Linked DNA regions of Homo sapiens. The protein of the gene in region 2 interacts with the protein of the main gene of each other region in a pairwise test. Each region holds a gene or a part of one and is shown on either strand. Other genes may lie near its edges.

Region 1 (6,974 bases), on a different chromosome or scaffold from region 2:
GTGACATAAACAAAGATAGTTAAGTTGTTTCTGATAGGTGAGAACTGCCTGTATTTAACTAGTATATGGTCATTAAAGATCTCCATGTGGTTTCTAAGAATGCAGAGTCATCATAAGAGAGTCAATAGCTTTAAAAAACAGCTAGATTTAAATAGGGAAGGAAATGTAGGCAATAATAATGTGAACTGTATTGTTTTTTGCTCTAATTTTCATAGAAGAAAATGGAAATATTTTTTGGTCTCCTAGACATTTTAAACAATTGCTAAAAAGTTGTCTTCCAGGTTTTTATTTTAACAAAAGTGTACATTATGGATTCTACAAGTAACTCATTTAAGAAAGCCAAATGTCATTAACTGTTACAATCTATTCAGAATGGGAGACCGAGAGTGGAAAATAGCCACTGAAATTTTTCTTCTATAGTACTCCAAAATAAACCCTGCAATTGTTTTGTCCAATCCAAAAAGGGCTATCTCATGTTTTTCATAAACCAGTTATTACAAGCATGTTCATGTTTCCTAAATAAACCAGCAATAAAATGAGAACTATTAACTATAGCCACACTGTAATGGGACTTAAGTTAAATGTATGTTATTAAAATACTTCTCAGAATGGTCATTATTTCTGAGAATCAGTCTTCATATTAAATATTTAACAACTTTTAAGAGGAAGTTACTATATATTCTTAAGAGAGAAAAGGTTTTGGTTGAGTTTTCTTAATGTCTTTAATAGGAATTAAATATTTGTTGACACTAGGGATCCTCAAGAAAAGAAAGCATACTTCTAAAATCTAGCCATTAAATCTAGTTTCATACTTTCTAATTTTCTTCAATTATACTTGATTTACAGAGAATCGAAACTAATACAAATGCAGCCACCATCTGGAAAAAACATAGGTAATTCATTGGACATTTTCCTTTCTTGACTGTTAAAAATTCCTCAACAGTTAACTTATGCAAATTAGTAAGAAGGTACAAATGTCAAAATGACAAAAGGGTACAAAAGTCACAATATGATCATACCGTTTTGGCCTGGTATTGCTATTTAAGTGAAGACATCCAAAAGGGAGAAATATGACAACTGGTATTTGCTTACTTGCCAATGAACTATTACATAATGAATTTTAAAAAATAGAAACATTTCTAATTTCCAGTTGTAAGGGAATGAATGGTTAGGCCCATTGTGATGTTAAAACTAAAATAAGTATTTAGTTGTTAGGGAAAAAATGAGGATTATATTAAAATATGTAAAGTACTTAAGTAAAAGAAGTGGGGAAAGCCAAAATTTTATGGAATTGCTGCAATTCTGTCAGAGTAAACTGGTAGGATCAAAAGATCTGATGTTTATAAACACTTGATGTGAAACGTTTTTCATTTTATTTTACTTTTGCATTGCTTCTGATGTTTAATGTTCCTTTTTAATGTTTATTATTGTTACCATGCTTTCTATTCAATTGCATGTTTTCTACTAAAACTCTTAATATTTAAAAAATATTAAAATCTCACAATCCACTCAACAGAGCGTCTGTCTGACCATAATTCAATGAATCTCTAGATTTGGAAGAGAATTTGTCATCTAGTTTATCCCTTCTAAATCTATCGACCACCCACCACCAGAGTCTTTTTGTTTGTTTTTTTCATCTTTGAGAGGGGCTATCACTGAAGCACCACATTTGTTTGGGGAAAGCATTCTTTAATTTAAAAAAAAATCTTCCTTAGACTGAAATTCACCTCCCAATAACCTTCACTAATTTGGTTAATTTGTTATCAGTTCTATATTTTAGTCTACACAAATCTTATTTTTCTTCTACCAGACAGCTGTGCGATTGCTGTATTTTAGGTCAGGTACTACAGATCTTTAGAACGTTCCCGGCGAAGCAACCCTATTTACCTCAGAATTATCTTAATTCATGTTTGCACTCCCTGATAACCTAGGACATAGGAGTTCAATACTTGCTGATTCCTTCACCATCCTACTCGGTCTGAGTTCCGTTTAGAAATATCCCCCTTACAATGAAATGCTCATAACTCAACACAATCTCCCAAGTGTTGACTGCATTCTGGAGATTTTCATCCTTTAGATGTGAAATCCTCATGAGTTGTGTGGGTTAAGTGAGGGTCCTTAAGTATAGAACGTTACATATATTCACTAAATTTCATTTTCTAAGATTTCACTCCTCATACCGGCCTTCGAATACTTTCTTGGGTAAGGTATCTTTCTTCCAACTTAAGTTACCGCAGCGGGCCCCGGGACCGTAGAAACGGAGATGACCTCAAATGCCACCTATGATAGGTCAATTCTAACCTGAGGGAATGGAGGTTATCTCCTAATTTCGTTACTAAATAAAACGGTCATATACGTGTTACGTGTAAGTCTATATTTCTCTCCCACACACTCCCACCCACATGCTGAGGGTACAACCCAGCCGGTAGCTGGGGCTGCCTGTTACATGAGGCCTTAGATAACGACGACTTAGCCCGCTTTAAAATAAACAAGTACGCTACAGAGAGCGATGAGCAGGACAGGAGATGAAAGAGACTGGCCTGTTCCCAACTCAGCACCTTCTCTGCAAAAACCTGGTATCTTGCCACGGAATGACACCGGAGACAACTCCGAGGACAAAAGACCCTGGGGCATCAAGCACCCGGAGACTGCCTCACAGGCGTTCCCCAGGCAGCTGCGTCGGCGCGCGCCCACCTTCCTCTGCGCGCGGGGATCACGTGCCAGGCGCCGAGCTCCGTCCCGCCCCTTGGCCCTAGGATTTTTACGCCTCCTTCCCCCGCTTGGCGAACGTGCAAGGATGGGGACTGGCTGATGGGGGAGGATTACCTGTGAGCCTAGCGAACCCGGTAATGCTTTCAGGGACTGGGAGCCGCTTCAGATATGCAGGGAGCTGCACCTTCACGATACGGGCCACGCTCTCCAGCACCATCCTGGCCAGCGGCGTCCACTCCTCTCCCGAGCCCCCTCCGCTCTGGCCAAGCTGCCGCGCCTGCGCCGGGAGCGGAAGCGGCCGGCGGGCACTGGCGGCCTCGGCCTGGGCGGCGGGCGGGGCGGCGGGCCCTGGGAGGAGAGGTGACCTGCCGGGCGCCGATTGGCGGCGGGCGAGTGACGTACGCTCGCGGCGGACTGCCGAGGCGCGGGAACTGGCGGGTAGCGAGGCCCTCCTCGGAATCTCGTGTGAAGGTGGCCCTCCTCTTGGGCCTTTAACGTCTGTAGATGCTGGAGACCAGCAGAAAGGATACTGTGTGCGATGAGATAAGCATGTGAGAATGCTTTCTAACCGAAAGTGCCTTTCAAAAGTGAGTCTCTTGCTGTCTCTACTTCGTCCCCTCTCGCCCCGCCTCTTCCCCTACAGTTTGGGTGCTGTGGCCCTAGGGTTGCATACTCGCCCATGAGTATCCTCCCCCTACCCAGACCCCAGTGCCTAATTTTACTCCTTCACCCAAAGGCCAGGCTTAAAAAAATAAAAATTAAAATATTTTAACTAAACCAGGAACTGTTTACATCTCTGCCCCTTGGCAACTTAACTGCAGCCCTAGCTCCAAAAACCTCTGGTTTTTGCCACTCAGAGAAGATTCGTAGTAGTCCTTCCTTAGATATTTTCAGTTCCTTTTCCTTCGGGAAAGTGGTAAAAGAATCCAAAGCTGGCCGGGCGCGGTGGCTCACGTCTGTAATCCCAGCACTTAGGGAGGCCGAGGCGGGTGGATCACGAGGTCAGGAGTTCGAGGCCAGCCAGGTCAAGATGGTGAAACCCCGTCTCTACTAAAAATAGAAAAATTAGCCGGGCGCGGTGGCAGGTGCCTGTCCCAGCTACTCGGGAGACTGAGGCAGGAGAATCGCTTGAACCAGGGAGGCGGAGGTTGCAGTGAGCCGAGAATGTGCCACTGCACTCTAGCCTGGGAGACAGAGCAAGACTCCGTCACAAAAAAAAAAAAAAAAAAGAATCTAAAGCCTTATGTATGGTTTTCTTTATGTTACAAGGCTTCTGCTGAAGTCTAGCGCAGGGGGTCCTTATGGCTTCCCTAGGCCACACTGGAAGAAGAATTGTCTTGGGCCACACATAAATACACTAACACTAATGGTAGCTAATGAGCTAAAAAAAAATTTTTTTTCATAAAGTTTTAAGAAAGTTTACAGATTTGCATTGAGTGGCATTCAAAGCCATCCTGTTGGGCAAGCTTGATCTTGAAGGTTTTAATTTTGTTGTTGTTGTTGTTGTTACAAGGTTTCGCTCTATCGCCCAGGCTGTAGTGCAGTGGTCAGATCATAGCTCACCGCAGACTCTAACTCCGGCTTAAGGGATCCTTCTGCCTCAGCCTTCCAAGTAGCTGGGTTTACAGGCGTGTGCTGCCACACCCAACGAATTTTAAAAATTTTTGTGTGTATGTAGATGGAGTCCCATTATATCGCCCAGGCTGGATAGTTGTTTTTATTAATATCTCTAAAAGATTTGAAGGGTAAGAGGAGAAAATTTCACTCCCTTGAAATAACTTTCTTGCTATGACTTTGTTTCATATTTTGGCTGAAGTCAAAATGTCCGAAGTTGTGCACTTGCTGATTGGATAATGTGTGTGATATCTTAATAATATGCCTCATTATTTACAGTTCTACACTTAACAACATATAATAACGAACTGCTAATGGTCCAGTATTTCATTGTGTATGACAGTGTAACAGCCAGTTATAATAAATACTTTCCATTTTTCCCCTTGGTATTTTTATTTTACAGTGAGAAAAGGAAGGAATTTTTTAAAGCAATCTTTCATTCTCTGGACTGTATAAATTTAGTGTTTGTGATTGTCCTTCACTAAAAAAGAATATCAGTAATAGAGTTGACCAAAATCTAGATTAAATAATTTTCTATCATTATAATTGTTCAAAATTGTTAAAGTAAAACTTACAATGGAAATTCTACAAACACGTTTAGATACAGGTTCATGTTTTTGAGCTAGGGCAGTATAGAAGATGGTGTATACAAAGTGATGTTTAAAAGGTTGATGGGATTTCCTTTAGAGAGAGTTTGGAGGTAAACCCTGGAGCTTTTTTATCCTGAAGATGATGGAACTTGAATATCCTTGTCCTCTGGACTATTCTGTTAACTGTTATCTTTAATCTCTGTGGATCTAATGTAGAAGCACCCTTGGGTACAACTAGATACCCTAGTTGAGGTAGGGGTAGGTTGGAAGTGGGGTACATTAGGAAAAGAAAATCTGGAAAAGGCCATTACCTATTCGTTTCTTCTCTTAGAGGATCTGTCATCTTGACAAGGGCAAGACGTGCTGTGTTGAGTTTAATTTTTCCCCTTGGTATTTTAAAGTGAGAAAAGGAAAGAATTTTTTTAAAGCAACTTTACATTCTCTGGACTGTATAAATTTAATGTTTGTGATTGTTGTGCATTAAGAATAAGACCTCCAAGCAGTTTTTCTTTAAAGAATTAAAAAATACATACCTCAATTTAAAGATATAGTAAAATGCTCAAATGCCAAATGTACAGTTCCAGGTAACCACCACCCACATCAATATACAGAATGTTCAATAGAGGCGTTTTTAAAAAGCGACCCTTCCAACCACATCCACCACCATTACTACTATTCTGTATTGCTGTGCATGTTTTTGACCCTCACATATAAGTAATTTTACAGTATGTAATTTTTTATGGTTGGCTTACTTCCTCTTAGCAGTTTATGTGAATAGCTGGTTTGCTATTTTCAAGTAGAAAAAATGTAGTGAATGCAAGTCTATATGGATAAAACTTTTTTGGGAGGCCTTGAAATTCAGAGAAAAGGTGTGGATCATATATTAGGTATTCTGATGCATTACATGAGCTATGCGAATGTGTAATAGGAGATAATTCCTAACTCCACCAATTTAAAAATCCTTATTATCCACTTAAAAGGAATATTTTCTTAAATTCCCTTTACTTAAAATTTAAATCCTGTTTTCATTTATATTTGTATTTCATTTCCACAACCCTGCCTTCTTGGCTGCACATGAAACATGGTCTAAAGATAATATTGCTCTAAATAGATGTAATAGGCTTATCTGACCACCTTATGCGATAGTGTTTTTAGACTCCATCTTTAAAAGACATAAAGAAACTGTGGTCAGAAAACTCAAGATAAATATGTAAATACAGTTAAAGGAGTCATTATTTACTTTCAAGCACTTGAGCTTGGATCACTCATCTTCTGCCTGTCCTAGCTAGGCCCAAGACTTTTATTTCTTTCATGTTTTTTTCCCATTAGGTCATCCAGTGCCCCAAATTCAAATATGATCGTTAAGATATAGCCCAAATCTCTATTTCCAGCCCAGATTTCTTTAGGCTAATCTTAATTCTAGGAGTCTAATTCCAAATGCCTACTAGTCTGCTCTTGACATCTTTGCCCACTGTGCTATTGGTTTGTTCATCAGTTTCACTGGTACATGTTTTCTGGAAAATATTACCTTGTTGGTTACATTGGTTGCTTATCTTTTCCTGTTGCTTATCTTCTCCTAGTGTATGTCTTTTTTTTTTTTTTTTTTGGTTGAGACAGAGTCTCTGTTGCCCAGGCTGGAGTGCAATGGCGCGATCTCAGCTCACTACAACCTCTGCCTCCCAGGTTCAAGTGATCCTCCTGCCTCAGCCTTCCATGTAGCTGGGACTACAGGCGCCCGCCACCACTCCCGGCTAATTTTTGTATTTTTAGTAGAGACGAGGTTTCACCATATTTGCCAGGCTGGTCTTGAACTCCTGACCTCATGATCCACCTGCCTCTGCCTCCCAAAGTGCTGGGATTACAGGCGTGAGCCACCGTGCCTGGCCGTGTATGTCTGTTTTTATACTGAAATTTGGTTTGGGTGTAGTCAAATTTATTCATCTTTTTCTTTACAATTTGTGTTCTGGGAGTCTTGTTTAAGAAATCTTTTTCTACCCCTAAATCACAAAGGTATTCACCTGTGTTTTTGCTAAAAGTTTTAAACTTATATTCTTCATA
Region 2 (7,208 bases):
CACACACCCAGATGAACAATGCATGTGGCATCACCCCAATACACAATACATATATGAACCATGCACATAATACATGCACATTAACACACATGCACACAAGATGACACATTGCACAATGCATAGCTGTGCATATCATATCACATACACAAAGTAACATGCACCAAGCATATAGGCACCACATAACGCAGTACCTGCATGTACTACACATACATGCACGACATCCATTTAATACACATAATGCAATGCACACACAACACAGAGAATATATACAACACACATGCACGAACATACATATACCATGACCCACAAATATGCATATTCACCACACATTTGCACTATGCAAACACACAGTCACACACACAGACCACTTTGGTAGCCACAGACCCTCTCGTTTCAGGCAATATTATTTCTTATCGGCAAAAAGAGGATGCTCACTCTTGCTCCAGGCCAGTGAAAAATAGTGTCAAAAAATTTGAAAACTATGTTTGTTCATTCAGCAATCACTTCTTTACTGCATGTTGGGCTTTGGGATGTACAATACAAACTCAGTCCTGACCTTCTAAGGGGCTCACAGCATAGCAGGGAAAGCAGGCATTCGACTGATAAATACATCAATAATCATTTGGCTTTAGTTTTGTAAGTGCTGTGAGTTAAAACTCCAGGGTGCAAGGAGGGCACAAAACTAGAATGGGGTGGGAATTTCCTGAAAATAGCTTTTAAAGGTAAGGCTTGAAAACAGTGTAGCGGGTTTGAAATGGAAGTAGGGTGCGGTGAGTGAGGCACCCGGGGCACACAATTTAAGGAGATGTTCACTCCCGGCTGCTGACCCTGCAATTGCACACCCTCGAGTGTGAGTGGCTGAGCAGCCAGGCTGAGGGGAACTAGATCAGGGATCCGAAGAGTGTGTGGCCCTGCTTCCAACTGCTGCCCTGCACAAATGTTTGCTTTCCAGGAAACTCTCCAGGCTCTGGGAGGAGCAATGGCCTATAGGAAAAGGGACCTAAATCACCAAACTAAAACTAACAAGCTGCCTTGCTCCCTGGATGCTGGTAACCAAGGCTCCCTCCTCAGTGGTCAGCCATGGTGACAGTAAGGGAGCAGGGGGTGTGGAGGATGGGCCAGCATCTCCCTGGGCACAGCTCTGCCCATCACCTACACTTCTCAGCTTACCTCCTGGGGCTGGGGCTGCCCTGGCAGGGTAAATTGCAGTCAGCACAGTATTCTGGCTCTCAGGCACTGGACCTGTTTCCTTAGTCTAGTGGCCCAAGGCAGGTGGCATGGAGTGGTGGGTCAGGCAGACTGGAGCTCACATGCCTGCATTCAAATCCTGACTTTGTTACCTACTAGCAGCGTGACTGGGAAAGCAACTTCACCTTGTTTTCATACCTATAGAATAAGCATGATGATACTACTAGCACCCATCTTGCAGAGCTGTGAGGACTTTCCAGGACTTTATGAGTTAATACATTAAAAGCTTGTAAAGTAAATCCAGACGCATGGGAAGAGCCCCCTAAATGTAAACTGCAATTGTTATTTTGATCCAAACTAAAAGCAAACACTAACAATAACCCTAAAATCAAAATGTAGTGGAGTCAGAGTGTTAGAACTGGCAAATGTCTGCTCTAACCTCCCTTCTGTGTTATAGAAATAAAGCCATTTGACCTAAAGACAGAAGAACTAGAACCCAGGACGGAGAAGAGAATGAACAAGCAAGAGTCCTCACTTTCTGCTTTCTAGGACAATGATTCTCACCTGAAGGGCTTGTTCATACAGACCACTGGACCCCACCCAGAGTTTCTTGTTTGGCAGGTCTGGGATGGGGTCTGAGAATCTGCATTTCTGAGAACCCACCAGTGCCCAGGGGCTGCTGACGCTGCTGGCCCAGGTACTGCATCTTGAAAAGCACTTGCTCTAAGTCAGGAGAGGCAGGCTACGGAAAGTTTGCATTCCCGAGTTTGCTACCACCCGATCATGCCCTGGGATCAGGGAAGGGAAAACAAGGGCCTTACTTACAGTGGGTGCCGCACCTCGGGCAGAGCCCTCTGGAGGGGGATGCGGGCACTGAGTGCCTCCTGGAGGCCACGTGGGTCCAGGCTGAACGGGGTCAACTCCTCTTCTTCAGACACCTCCCCGTCCTCATCAGCCCCCCAGTCCCTCTTTGGGGCTTCCTTATCCTGCCTCCTTGGCTGCTTGATGAGGCGGTAGCTCCCACCTCTCCTGCCCTGGCTCTGGTTCCTTCTGGCCTGGGGTAAGGCCACGGCCACCAGCAGCTGATCCTCCCGCAGTGAGATAAAGGGTGGCAGGCCCTCCAGAGGGCTGTACTCTTCACCCTCATCCTCAGCTTCCAGTACCCAATCCTGGGATTCCCCAAAGTCCAGGCGGTACCTGGCTTCAGGGCTGTGCTTGCTGGCTTGGGCTGTGACAGTCTGGTGCAGGGTGTGGTGGGGAGGGTGCAACATCGCCACCATCATCAGGACGCATCCCAGCATCAGGAGCAGCAGGAGGAACTGGAGTCTGCATGGTCTGTGCCTGTATCGCTTCCTTAGGAGCATGTTGCTAGAACTTGCCAAATGCAACAGGTCATGTTCAAGTTAGCTTTCTCCCGCTCCAGGCTCCTTCAAGCTTGCAGCAGAACCTGGGTTGCTTGTTCCACCTGGAAGTTTTTCTGCCAGTCACTTAACCTGGTCCTGACATTTGCCAACAGCGTGTGCAAGACCTGCTTCCACTTACAATCAGAAAACCACAGGACCCAAGTTTCACCCCAAGTCCTCTCTGAGTGGATTTCTTTAATTGCCTTCTGAAAGCCCATTCACAGGGACTTCAAATTGAATTGCTTCCCTCCCTTTACCCCGGTTTTCTCCTTGGGAAAAAAATAATGATTCCATTCTGCTCAGGTGTTTCTTTCCCCCTTTGTATAAATAGGTTGCTATGAGGTGTCTGGGATGAGCTGGTGGGTTCTCAGTCAAGCAGGGCTGACAGCCGTCCCTCTTTGGACGCTTCCAGTCAGGTCAGATCAACAGATGTAAAGCCGGCAGGCAGTGCCTGGTTTCCTTTCACACATAGCTCCACTCAGCCGAGAGCCCTCTGCCAGACACAACCCAGAGCCAAGCGTGCGCGTCACTCCTGGTCCTAATGCCCTCACTGTTCCCAGGCTTTGCACAACTCGGTGTGGTCACTGCTAGAGCCAAATCAAAACAGGAATATCCCAAGAGTTCAGAAGGAAAGACTAATACCCTCTGATTCAGAAAGGCTGTGTGTGTGGCATAGCTGCAAGGAGCTGCAGCTGTCTGTTTGCAACCTCAGCCTCCCATGGGGGATCAGGCAAACTAGGTTGGACTCTCCTTCCCTTCCTGGGGACCACTGTCCCTGGCCTCCTGAAAATGAGGGAGCTAAGGGAGATGATCTTGCAAGTCCCTTCTTCTCCCACAAGAGCAGCTGAATGCCTGCTCTGCCCTGGCCACCAAGGGGGACGCTGGAAGAGGAGTGGCATGCTCTTTCCCTCATAAAGCTTCCTTCATTTAACCAACACATAATTAATGAACACATGCTATGTGCCAAAATTGTTCTGGGAACTGGAAGTAGAGCAATGAATAACACAGACAAAAATGTGTGTCTCATGGAGCTTGCATTCTAGTGACAGATACAATTAAAACTATCCACTGGGTCAGATAGTGATGAGGATGAAGGCAAAAAAGCAGAGCAGGGATGGGGCTGGGGAGCATGGGCTGGGCTTGGAAATGGACATTGAGTGGTGGAGAAAGGTTTCATGGAAGAGTTACCATTTGTGTAAAGGAGAGGGCTGCACAGCTATTTGAGGTTGAGTGTTCGGGGCAGACAGAATGATAAATGTGAAGGTTCCAAGGCAAGAGTATGCTGGCATGTCTGAGGAACAGCCGGCATGGCTGAAGCAAAGAGAGCAGGGTGGAGCCTGATGGGAAGTGGAATAAGAGAGGCAAGGGGGCGGGGGGCAGGAGGACCATGCAGGACACCCCCTGGTTGCATTGAAGGAACTTTGGCTTTTCCTCTGAGTGAGAGGGGAGCCCTTAGAGGAGAGACACAATCTGACTTGGGTTTTAACTGGATCATTCTGGCTGCTGGGTTGAGACTAATCAGTGGGGGGCAAAAAGCAGGAGCAGGGAGACCAACCAAGAGGTTCTTGGCTTGCACTAAGTGGCATCGGTGGTGACAGGGGTCAGCTTGTGGATATACTTTAAGGAAGAACCTATAGGATTTGCTGATGAATTAATGACTAATGTGAGAGGAAGAGAAGAGTCAAGATGAGTTCAAATTTTTGTTCTGAGTAGTTGGAAGAATAGACTTGCCATTAACCAAGATGGGGAAGGAGAGAAGGTGGAAGGAGATGAATGCATGCCAGTGGCTTGATTTGGAACATGTGACATTCGAGATGTCCTCTAGACAGCTAAGAGGAGATGAAGTGAAGGCAGCAGTTGTAGGATAGCTGAAGGTCAGGGGGAGGTCTGGCCTGCATATACAAAGCTGGACTCCAGCAGCACTCAGATAGTGTTTGAAGCCGTGAGACCTGAGATCACTGAGGGAGTGAGGTAGGTAGAAGGGAGAAGAGAATCCAGCATGCTCAGTTTTCAGGCTTCTGGCTTGAACAGGTTGAAGGATAGCTGACCATCACCATGAGCAGTGTTTCTTCTGATGGCTGTAAAGCAGCCATGCTGTCTGCAACCAAGAGTGGAGGGGGGAAAACTGCCATTGGGGAAGTCCTGCAATGAACTTGCTCATTGTTTTTGTCTTTATTTTGATCTTAGAATGTCAGCTAAAATGTTTGTGGAAAAAAATGTTTTACCTTTTGACTCAGTTGTTTCTTCCAGTGTGTGTGGTGTGTCTGTGCACACTCACGTGCACAAGCATGTATACACGTGTGTTTTCATGAAGTCAGAGGTGAAATAGTGGGTTATGTGTGGTTGTTCTCCTGGAATCCCATTGTAATGCCCCAGTGGACAGTGCTTAGCAATTTCTGGATTGAATTGTGTCTTCCAAATCTCAAATCACGGTGTATTGCCAGGTGGGAATACTGTGTCATTTCCAAATTCAAGAGGCAGACACCCTGGGAGATGTAGTTCAGAATATCTGGGGACATTTTGAGGTTAATGAGGATGAAGGATTAGAAGGTTCCAAATCCAGGAGGCCTTCAGAAAACTGAGTGTGCAGAGTCACCATCTTCCACTCATCTCTAGCAACGCTGTGCTTGAACTTACCAAGAACAGCCCACCCCAGGGCTGTCACCCTGGCCAGCCCACTGCTTGAGCACTCTTTCCCCAGAAAGTCATCCATATGGCTCATTTCTTCATTTTTGTGTTCCCCAGAAAGTCATCCATGTGGCTCATTTCTTCATTTTTGTGTTCACTCCAATGTCACCTATTTAGTGAAGGCTTCGTGGACCCCCCATTCTACATTGAAACCCCTCATCAACATGGGGCTTTCTTTGAGAATCTCTGTGGCTCTTCTCAACACCTGGAAAATTAAAATACTAAGGTGTTTATTGTCTGTTTCTCCACCCACTCCCATAAAACATAAGCTCCACAAGGGTAGGGCTTTTGTTTGCTTGTTCACTGCTGTTTTTCCAGAGTACACAAAGCACATTTTTCCACTCCCCAGGCCTTTGCTGCTGTCCCTGACAGCTTTGCTGCCAGTTCTTCCCATCCCCCACCATCACTTGGCACATGAGGCCCAGACCTTGCTCCCTTCTCCTCTCTTTCTCACCCTTGCTCCTATCATGGGTTGAATCGTGTCCTCCAAAATTACACTGAAGCCCTGCCTCTGCTGGGGAACCTGTGAAGGGGGCCTTGACAGCAAATAGGATCTTTGTAGATTATCAGGTTAAAAGGAGGTTGTTAGGGTGGGCCCTAATCTAATATGACTGGTATTGTTACAAAAAGGGGACAATTGGGCAGAGACAGGCATACACAGAGAACATCATGTGAAGAAGAGGGCAGACCTGGGTGACACATCTAAAAGCCAAGGAATATCAAAGATGGCCAGGAAATCACTGATAGCTAGGAGAGACATGAAACAGACTGTCCTTCACAGTCCTAAGAAAGAACCAGCACTGCCAACACCTTGATCATGGACTTCTTGTTGCTACAACTGTGAGATCATACATTTCTGTTATTTAAGCCACCCACTTGTGGGACTTTGTTATGGCAGCCGCAGGAAACGGATACAGTTCCTCTTGCCCTCCCCACCCTCCCACCCTCCTCTGCCTTCTCTCAACTCTTGCTCTAGCTCTGTCATTTCCATCTCTCCTTCTCCCATTCCATCTCCTTCCTCAACCTCTAGTGAGGTTAGGCATCACACTAACCTCCTCAGCCCATGGCCTTCCCATGACAGAGACAGCCCATGAAAAAAGGCTCCCAAAAGAACTGGGGCTGGGTGACTCTGGCCTGGGATTCTTGGCTCCAGTTCAAGATAAACTAGATCTGGTGAAGTCCCAGATGCAGGCCGTGGGTCTCTCCTGGGACTCAGAGCATTGTTGATCTAACCTCCAGGCTGTCTCATTGCTCAGAGAGGTGAGATGATCAACACCCCAATTAGACCGCCACTGGGGTTTCTGTATGTTTCTCTCTTTAGCTTTTCATCTGTCTGTTTTCTCATAAGCCATGGCAGCTTTGGTGTTAACAATTCTGCTGTTTTCCTAGAAAAAAATGAAATTTTTCTGTTCAGATGGATGGCAGGTTAAAGTGCCAGAACAAATCAGAGACTGAGAGTATTCATGAAAGGAACAGTAGACATCAGCTAGTGAAAAACAAAAAATTCTGCAAAGCAATAGCAGACCTGGCCCAAGCAATTCAAGAAGATGTCATCAACGGCCCAGTCGCTGTTCTTCCCATCTCAAGCTGAGGTGAAAAGAGCAAGAATAAGGGAAGCTAGAGAGGCAATTCCCCAAATAACTTAACCCCAGGCATTTTTTTGTTTGACTTGGTGCTATGGTTTGAATGTTTGTTCCTCCAAACTTCATGTCGAAATTTAATTCCCAGTGTTAGAGGTGGGGCCTAATGGGAGGTGTCTGGGTCATGAGGGTGGATCCTTCATGAATAGGTGAATTTCCTGCTTGGAGCAGAGGGAGACCGGGTGAATGAATTCTCACTCTGTTGGTTCCTGTGACATCTGGTTGTTAAAAGGAGGCTGGCATCGCCCCCATTTCTTGCTTAATCCCTTTCTCGCCATGTAATCCCTGC
Region 3 (7,025 bases), on a different chromosome or scaffold from region 2:
AAAATGTACTATACTTTAAAGATAGGTACTATAATTAGTAAATAGATTACTGTTAAATAACTTTTTTTAAAAAAAAGTTTCATCTATGCACATAGGCTCTGAGCAGATTTCAGATAGTTCCTGAATAAAAATCAAAATTGACTATCAGTTGCCATTTTATATATGTTAACATATAAAGAAAAAAGAGTCATTTGAGGATGGAAGATCAGCTAAAAAGCAAGTTGTAATATTTATAACAGTTCTGCAGGTGGAGGTGGCAGGGATTCATTAAGATCTTGATCAGAGTTGGGAGGAATAGAGAACTCCTGACACTGGATCTCAAGGTTGGAATCTTCTTGGTTTTTCATAAAATCTACTGGTGGCAGGGGCAAGTTAAGTGAGTCAAGCGGTGGAAATGATTGTATTATCTCAGATTTATGATCTCCACAGTCTTGATTGAGACAGTCCAGAGATGGAGGGAGACTAGTAGAATCATTTGGAAGAGGAGATACAATTGTCATTGTGGGTTTGTCAGATTGGTTACTTTCCTGTCCTTCCAAATCCAGAAGGGGAGGTGGTGGAGGCAGATCTGCATCATCTGAAGAAGAAACAGCAGTTCCAACTGTTGAACCATCAGCACTATCTTCTGATGTACCATTTACTTGATCTTTTATTTTCTCTGTTTTGGGGTTGTTGGAGTCTTCAATGTTTTCACTTGATTCAAACAACTTAATTTCTAAGTCATCTGCTAAAAGTGTGCTTTTGCTTGGTTTCCAGGGTGTAAGTGAAATGATTGATGTACGTTTTGTGGATATTTCATTTTCTCTGATGTTATCCATACAAATGTCAGGGGTTTCTCCATCAGCAAATGGAGATCTACCTGCCCAATTTTGATCATTTAAAACTGGTTTCCTTAAGCATTTCCAAAGTACAATGATGATTATAGCTACCAACATAGAAGTCAGAAGTACACCAATTAGTATGGCAGCTATTGAATTATAATTGTTTTTTTGTGGGGTTTGTTTGTTACTGGTAGTATCTAAGATAAATCCTGGTGTACTCCTAGGTGAATTTTTGACAGTTGATGTTGGTTGTGTGGATGGATTATGAACAGTTATTTGTTTTCTAGAAGGGATCTGGACAGATGATGATTGTTGAGTAAAAGTATAGACAAATGACTTTGGTGGTTGTGTGGTAGAAGTACGGGCAGATGGTAGTTGTCTGGCAGAGGTGAACACGGCTTGCTGGGAGGAGGTGTTGGCTATTGGTGTTGGTTGTTTGGTGTTGTAGGCAAGTGGTTGTCCAGCAGAAGTATGTGCTTCTGGTTTTTCAGAAGAGGTATAGACAGCTGGTGTTGGTTGTCCAGCAGTGACTTTGGCAGGTGATATTGATTGTCCAGAAAAAGTGTCGCTGAATTGTGTTGGTTGACCCAAAGGATTCCCTGTTGTGTTTTGAGAATTAGCCAATACCTGTGACATTGATGATGTGAATAAGGTAGGCTGTGACTGCTTCTCTGTTGTAATTGTCTCTGTCTTTGAAAAAAATGTATTGTTCAGGTGTCCACAAAACAAAATTAAGATGAAATATTTGGGATCCATTTCAGAATATTTCCTCGTTATCTATAGCGGGTTTATAATGAAAGAGAAAGACAGTTAGGCGTCATTGGTGTCTAGTTAAAAATTTGACTTTTCATTATGATTCCTGGCATAAAGTAGGTAGACATTATTCCTAATTAGTAGTAGTTGATTAGTAGTTATTATTCCTAATTTAGACTTGATACACTGTAGGTTTGGTGTAACAACTCTTGGATATACTCTAACCCATCATACAGCATTTGGACCTCATAAGCAGTGATCTCTCTTCTTTTATTAATACAAGTTCTGTACTTGGCTCTGCTGCCCCTCTAGCTTCATTATATTTCAGTACTTCACTTAGTCATACTTCTCAAAACGCATAGGCTCTATATGCTGGATCCATGTGTTCTCTACCTTTTTTCACCATTTTCTACTAGAAATATATTGATTCTCCTGCCTTGAAGAACACCAGTGATCATCTGTTACCTAATCTAATTGTTCTTTATTTCTTCTCTCCCCTCCCCTCCTTGACCACATTAGACACTACTGTTCCTTCACTAATATTCAAGTAGCTTTTTGTAATCAGTCTTCCTTTCATGTTACTCTCACTAGCTCTTTTTCTTCTGCCTCCTAAATATGGTTAATTGATATTCTGTCCTCACCCTTACCTACTTTTCTTTGTTCCTGATTCTGTAAGATTTTAGTTCTCAGCTTTATGCCACAATTCCTAAACCTGTACCTCCAGCCTACATCTTCTTTGTCCTAATTCTATTTGTGTGACTTCTTGGTGGATTTTTCCATATTTTATATATATAGATAGATAGACATAGATATAGATATAAATATCTCCCACTATCAGCAAATTCAACATATTTAAAATGGAGTTCATCTTTACCCTCACAACTGACAACTGACTCTTCTCCCAACTTCTCTGTATCTGTTAATGGTACCACTAAGTTTCTTAGGCACAGAGTCTATTAGTAATCTTTGAAGCATCCTTAGTGTCTCTGTAGCGTGGTAGCCTTATGTTAATATTGCATATTTTTAAAGAATTTCATTCAACTCAGAGTCTTAGGCTTAAAATCCTAGAGTGATCTCTGAATCTGGTGGAGTAAATTCAATCCAGTTGGTCAAGTAGTCCTGCTGCTGCTTTCATTCATCTATTGGTAAATGCCACATTTGTGTGGAGCTCTGTTCTAGGTTTAGGAGATTAAAAAAAAAAAAAAAAGATAGTCACTGCCTTTAAGTGTTTCAGATTCTAGTGATAGAAGCAAACAGTAAAGGCCAGGCGTAGTGGCTCATTCCTGTAATCCCAGCACTTTGGGAAGCCAAGATGGGAGGATCGTTTGAGGCCAGGAGTTCAAGAACAGCATGGACCACATAGTAAGATCCCATCTCTAAATAAAAAGAAGAAAGAAAAAAAGCTAAAAAATAATTACAATAATTTTTTTTTTTTCAAGACAGTCTTACTCTGTCACCCAGGCTGGAGTGTAGTGGCACAATCTGGGCTCACTGCAAATTCCGCTTCCCAGGTTCAACTGATTCTCCTCTCTCAGCCTCCAAGTAGCTGGGATTACAGGTACACATCACCACGCCTGGCCTATTTTTGTATTTTTAGCACAGACGGGGTTTCACCGTGTTGGCCAGGCTGCTCGAGAACTGACCTCAGGTGATCTGCCTGCCTTGGCCTCCCAAAGTGCTGGGATTACAGGTGTGAGCCACCACGCCTGGCCCAATTACAATAATTTGATAAGCTTTCTCATAAAAGTATGCAGGAGATGTACAGAGAAGTTAACCTAGCCTGGAAAGGCTTCAGTGAAGTAAAGCTTGAACTGAATTTTAAAAGTCTATAAAAACTAATTAAGTTTCCAGCCAGGGAGAGCAACAATGTGGGCACAGGAAAATAAGGCACATATGAAAGTTTGGCAGATAGGGCTTTTTCTGGGATGTGGTAGATGCTAAAACTTGGAGAGTTAAGTTTCAGTTCTACTTCTCCCATCTAACTACCTGTCTAACCATGAGAACTAGTTGCTTAACCTTTCCTGTTCTCAATTGCCTTTCCTCTAAAGTGAAGAGTTCTACTGAGACAATTTGCAACTTTTGGTATAATATACTTGTTTTGCACATCATCAAACACAATGGCAACTATTTGGTTATCTCTTAACATTAGGGAATAGAAAATCTTAGGGTGTTAGATATTGGTATACATGATTAGAAACTATAGTTCTTCTGACTCATAAGCCTATATTTAGAGAGATTTGATGTTCTGTTGGAAGGTGCAATAAAGGTTTTACAAATTACCTTTTCAGCATATCTAAACAGCATATCATTGCTTACTCCTCTACCACTTGGTACACAGTGATGATAAATGGCCCTGTTTTAGTAGAAGAAAAGATATGTGATTTTTTTCCCTATACGAATAATTCAAGCCTGAATTTTAAAACAGTTCTCCTTTGAACTCTCCTGCACACTGCTGAATTAATCTTAAAAGTGTGCATGATCAGGTTACTACTGCCTTGCTTGAGGGTTTAATTTCTGTTAAGATAAAACTTCCTTTTTCTTTTTTTTTTTGGAGACAGAGTCGTTCTGTCACCCAGGCTGGAGTGCAGTGGCATGATCTTGTCTCGCTGCAACCTCTACATCCTGGGTTCAAGCGATTCTTGTGCCTCATCCTCCCGAGTAGCTGGGACTACAGTAGGCATACACTACCACACCTGGCTAATTTTTGTATTTTTAGTAGAGACAGGGTTTCACCATGTTGTCCAGACCGGTCTCGAACTCCTGACCTCAAGTGATCTGTCCGCCTCAGCCTCCCAAAATGCTGGGATTACAGGCATGAGCCACCACGCCTGGCCTGTTAAGATAAAACTTCTAAATTGAGTTTTCTTCCTTCTGGCTTGAGTTAACCAGTCCAGATTCACGTATCATGACTGAAACTTCTTATCCAGCCAAATGCATCCCTTTCCCACCTTGCATACTTTCTAAACACACGATTTTTCCCTGCTAAACAGACACTTCTATGCTGTTTTTTACCCTTCTCAAGGGTGTTCTTTTTTTTTTATTTTTCTTCCAGACCTAGCCTCTTCCCCTTTCTGGCTGCATATCTGAATCTGTCCTCATCTTTCAGACCTCAGTTTAAATTCCCCTTCTTAACCCAAGTTCTCTGTGACTGACTACAGCCCAAACAGATCAGTCATTTACTGAATTCCCCCTAGCTCTCATTTATTGTTTTTATGGTTCCTTACATAATTCATGTATGTATCTCACTCACACTTCTATTCTCTTAAGTAATTGTGTTTACTTTTCACATTTTCCTATACCTACTTCCTTGAACAAGATTATAAAGAACCTTGAAGAAGGCAGAAAGGAGAAAGAAAAATACTTATCTAGAGCATATTATGTGTTGTACTATCCCAGTTTTGCATACTTTATTTCACAGAACCTTCAAATGACTTTATAAGGAAGGTAAAGGGATCCCTTATTTACAGATAAAGAGACAGTGTCAAATGAGTTAAGCAGTTTGCCTGATGTTATACCACTCGAAGTGACAGATTGGGAGTTTGTACCCAGGGCCACCTGATTCCAAAGCATACATTCTTTCTGCTACCCTTTATTGCCTCATGTTTTTATATTTTGATTTCTTTGTAGTTAATGCCTTATATATTAGGAGCACAGTAAACATTTAACCTGTATTGGGCTTCTTGATTCCTTTCCATTTTAGTTTTTGCTTTTTACTAGTACTTCTACCAGAAAATAAGCAGAGGCAGTGAAATCTGAGTTAATAAATTCTGCTTTTTATCCATTTTGCAAAAGATTTAAAAGGGAAAATTTGAACACTTTTGGCATAGATATAGGGATTTGAATAATCTCTGGATGGTCATCATCCATGCAGTTCCTACCCATTATTCTTATAGATTACAAAAAAAGGCGGGGGGACTTCTTTAGAAAATGTTATTCTCTTCAGAACTTCATTTTAAAAATCTGTTTTAATGCTATGCAAAGCATCAGAAAATATAAGCCATGAATTGTCTTTAGCCAAAAATGTTTCCTCTTTTGTGACTTTGCTTAAAATAAGGAAACCATACGGTTCCTCTTTTCAGTTAGCTGAAAAAGGCATTAGAGAAGGACAGGGCCCAAACAGGAACATAATTTTAAACCCAGGTTAGTTTGTAAGATCAATTTTGATAGGCTCCTATCCTCTACTGTCAGTAGTAAGCTGGTGGAACCCTCCATGTATGAGATTTTCACTTGTCAGTTAACGGTTATGGCAATATTAAAACCAAATTCCATTTTTTGCCTATCCTAACACTTTCTACCACTCTTCAGTTAGCTTTTTATCCTCCTAGGATCTGCCACATCAGAGTACTAGAAACTGTATTAGAATTCTATGATGGCAATTCAGTGTAGTCCAGAGAAGGAGAAGAAAGATTTAAAAGAGGAATAAATAGGGAATATGGTAGTGGAAAAAACTGACTTTTTTCCCAGCGGTAATGAGGCCAGCGTTACTACCAGTGTGGAAGGTTATTTAGCATACACATTTTAAAATATGTAAGTGGTGTGTACCTGAAGTACCAACATTGTTTCTGTAGGTAAAGAACAATATTGGGCAGGGGAATAAAAAGGAGATTTAGAATAATATAAAAGGCAATGCAAAGAAATACAAAATAACACAAAAGAGAAAAAACAAAAACTCTAGGAAGCAGCGAACAGAAAAGAGGAAGGTCAATTGACTAGAGAAGATACAGAAAAGAAGAAAAGTTAATAAACAGGTGAAAAAAAAAGCAGTGGTTATATAATTAGCAAGAAGGCAGTGTAGATGATTGAAGTAGGCAAAATGAAGTTGGGGGTGGGGGGAGATGATTGAAGTAGATGAAAGAAGCAACGGCAAAATGCTGCTCTGTTGTGGCTGGCCTGTGTTTGTGAGTGCAGGGAGACAGTAAAGAGGAGCTTGCTTTCTAAAATGGAGGACCAGAAGGAACCATCCTTTCAAATTCATTTACCTTTCATTTCAGGCTCTCCTGTCTGCTGTGAGTATCCTTACCATCCTCTCCCTTTTTTTTTCCCTGACACTATCCAGAAGCATACCTAGCAATTATTCCAAAGAACCCATGTACCCGTGTACGTTTTATATAGAGTTTTCCAGAAATCCCTTAGTCTGCTGCTCAAGCAAATTTGTCAGCCCTCATATGCCGGTTTTTACTCATTATTATAGGCTGGCACTTTGAGGTTTAAATCTGTGATTTTGGTTCTTTTTCTTTGCTGAATATTTAGAATATTTTAAAAAGAAAAACATAAATTTAAACATTTTAAAGACAGTTACAGTGAAGCAGGAGTCCCCGTGTATAAGACATGTTCTTTTTTTTTTTTTTTTTCCGTTTGGAGACAGGGTCTCACTCTGTCACCCGGGTTGCAGTGCAGTGGTGCAATCTCAGCTCACTGCAGCCTCTGCCTCCTGGGCTCAAGCGATCCTCC

The links. Proteins that work in one complex are often made in the same cells at the same time.
Region 1: the proteins of GALNT15 (region 2) and CISD2 interact in binary tests that used the Homo sapiens proteins (3 or more experiments, as listed by UniProt).
Region 3: the proteins of GALNT15 (region 2) and EVI2B interact in binary tests that used the Homo sapiens proteins (3 or more experiments, as listed by UniProt).

The regions. Positions count from the first base shown.
Region 1 is NC_000004.12:102,865,040-102,872,013, reverse strand, and holds the start of CISD2 (CDGSH iron-sulfur domain-containing protein 2), read right to left. Parts: upstream 3,023-6,974; 5' UTR 2,930-3,022; coding exon 2,827-2,929; intron 1-2,826. Other genes in the region: UBE2D3 (ubiquitin-conjugating enzyme E2 D3), read left to right, coding at 3,270-3,299. UniProt on the Homo sapiens protein: Regulator of autophagy that contributes to antagonize BECN1-mediated cellular autophagy at the endoplasmic reticulum.
Region 2 is NC_000003.12:16,170,496-16,177,703, reverse strand, and holds the start of GALNT15 (polypeptide N-acetylgalactosaminyltransferase 15), read right to left. Parts: upstream 3,025-7,208; 5' UTR 2,553-3,024; coding exon 2,014-2,552; intron 1-2,013. UniProt on the Homo sapiens protein: Catalyzes the initial reaction in O-linked oligosaccharide biosynthesis, the transfer of an N-acetyl-D-galactosamine residue to a serine or threonine residue on the protein receptor.
Region 3 is NC_000017.11:31,304,033-31,311,057, forward strand, and holds part of EVI2B (protein EVI2B precursor), read right to left. Parts: intron 1,599-7,025; 5' UTR 1,578-1,598; coding exon 231-1,577; 3' UTR 1-230. UniProt on the Homo sapiens protein: Required for granulocyte differentiation and functionality of hematopoietic progenitor cells through the control of cell cycle progression and survival of hematopoietic progenitor cells.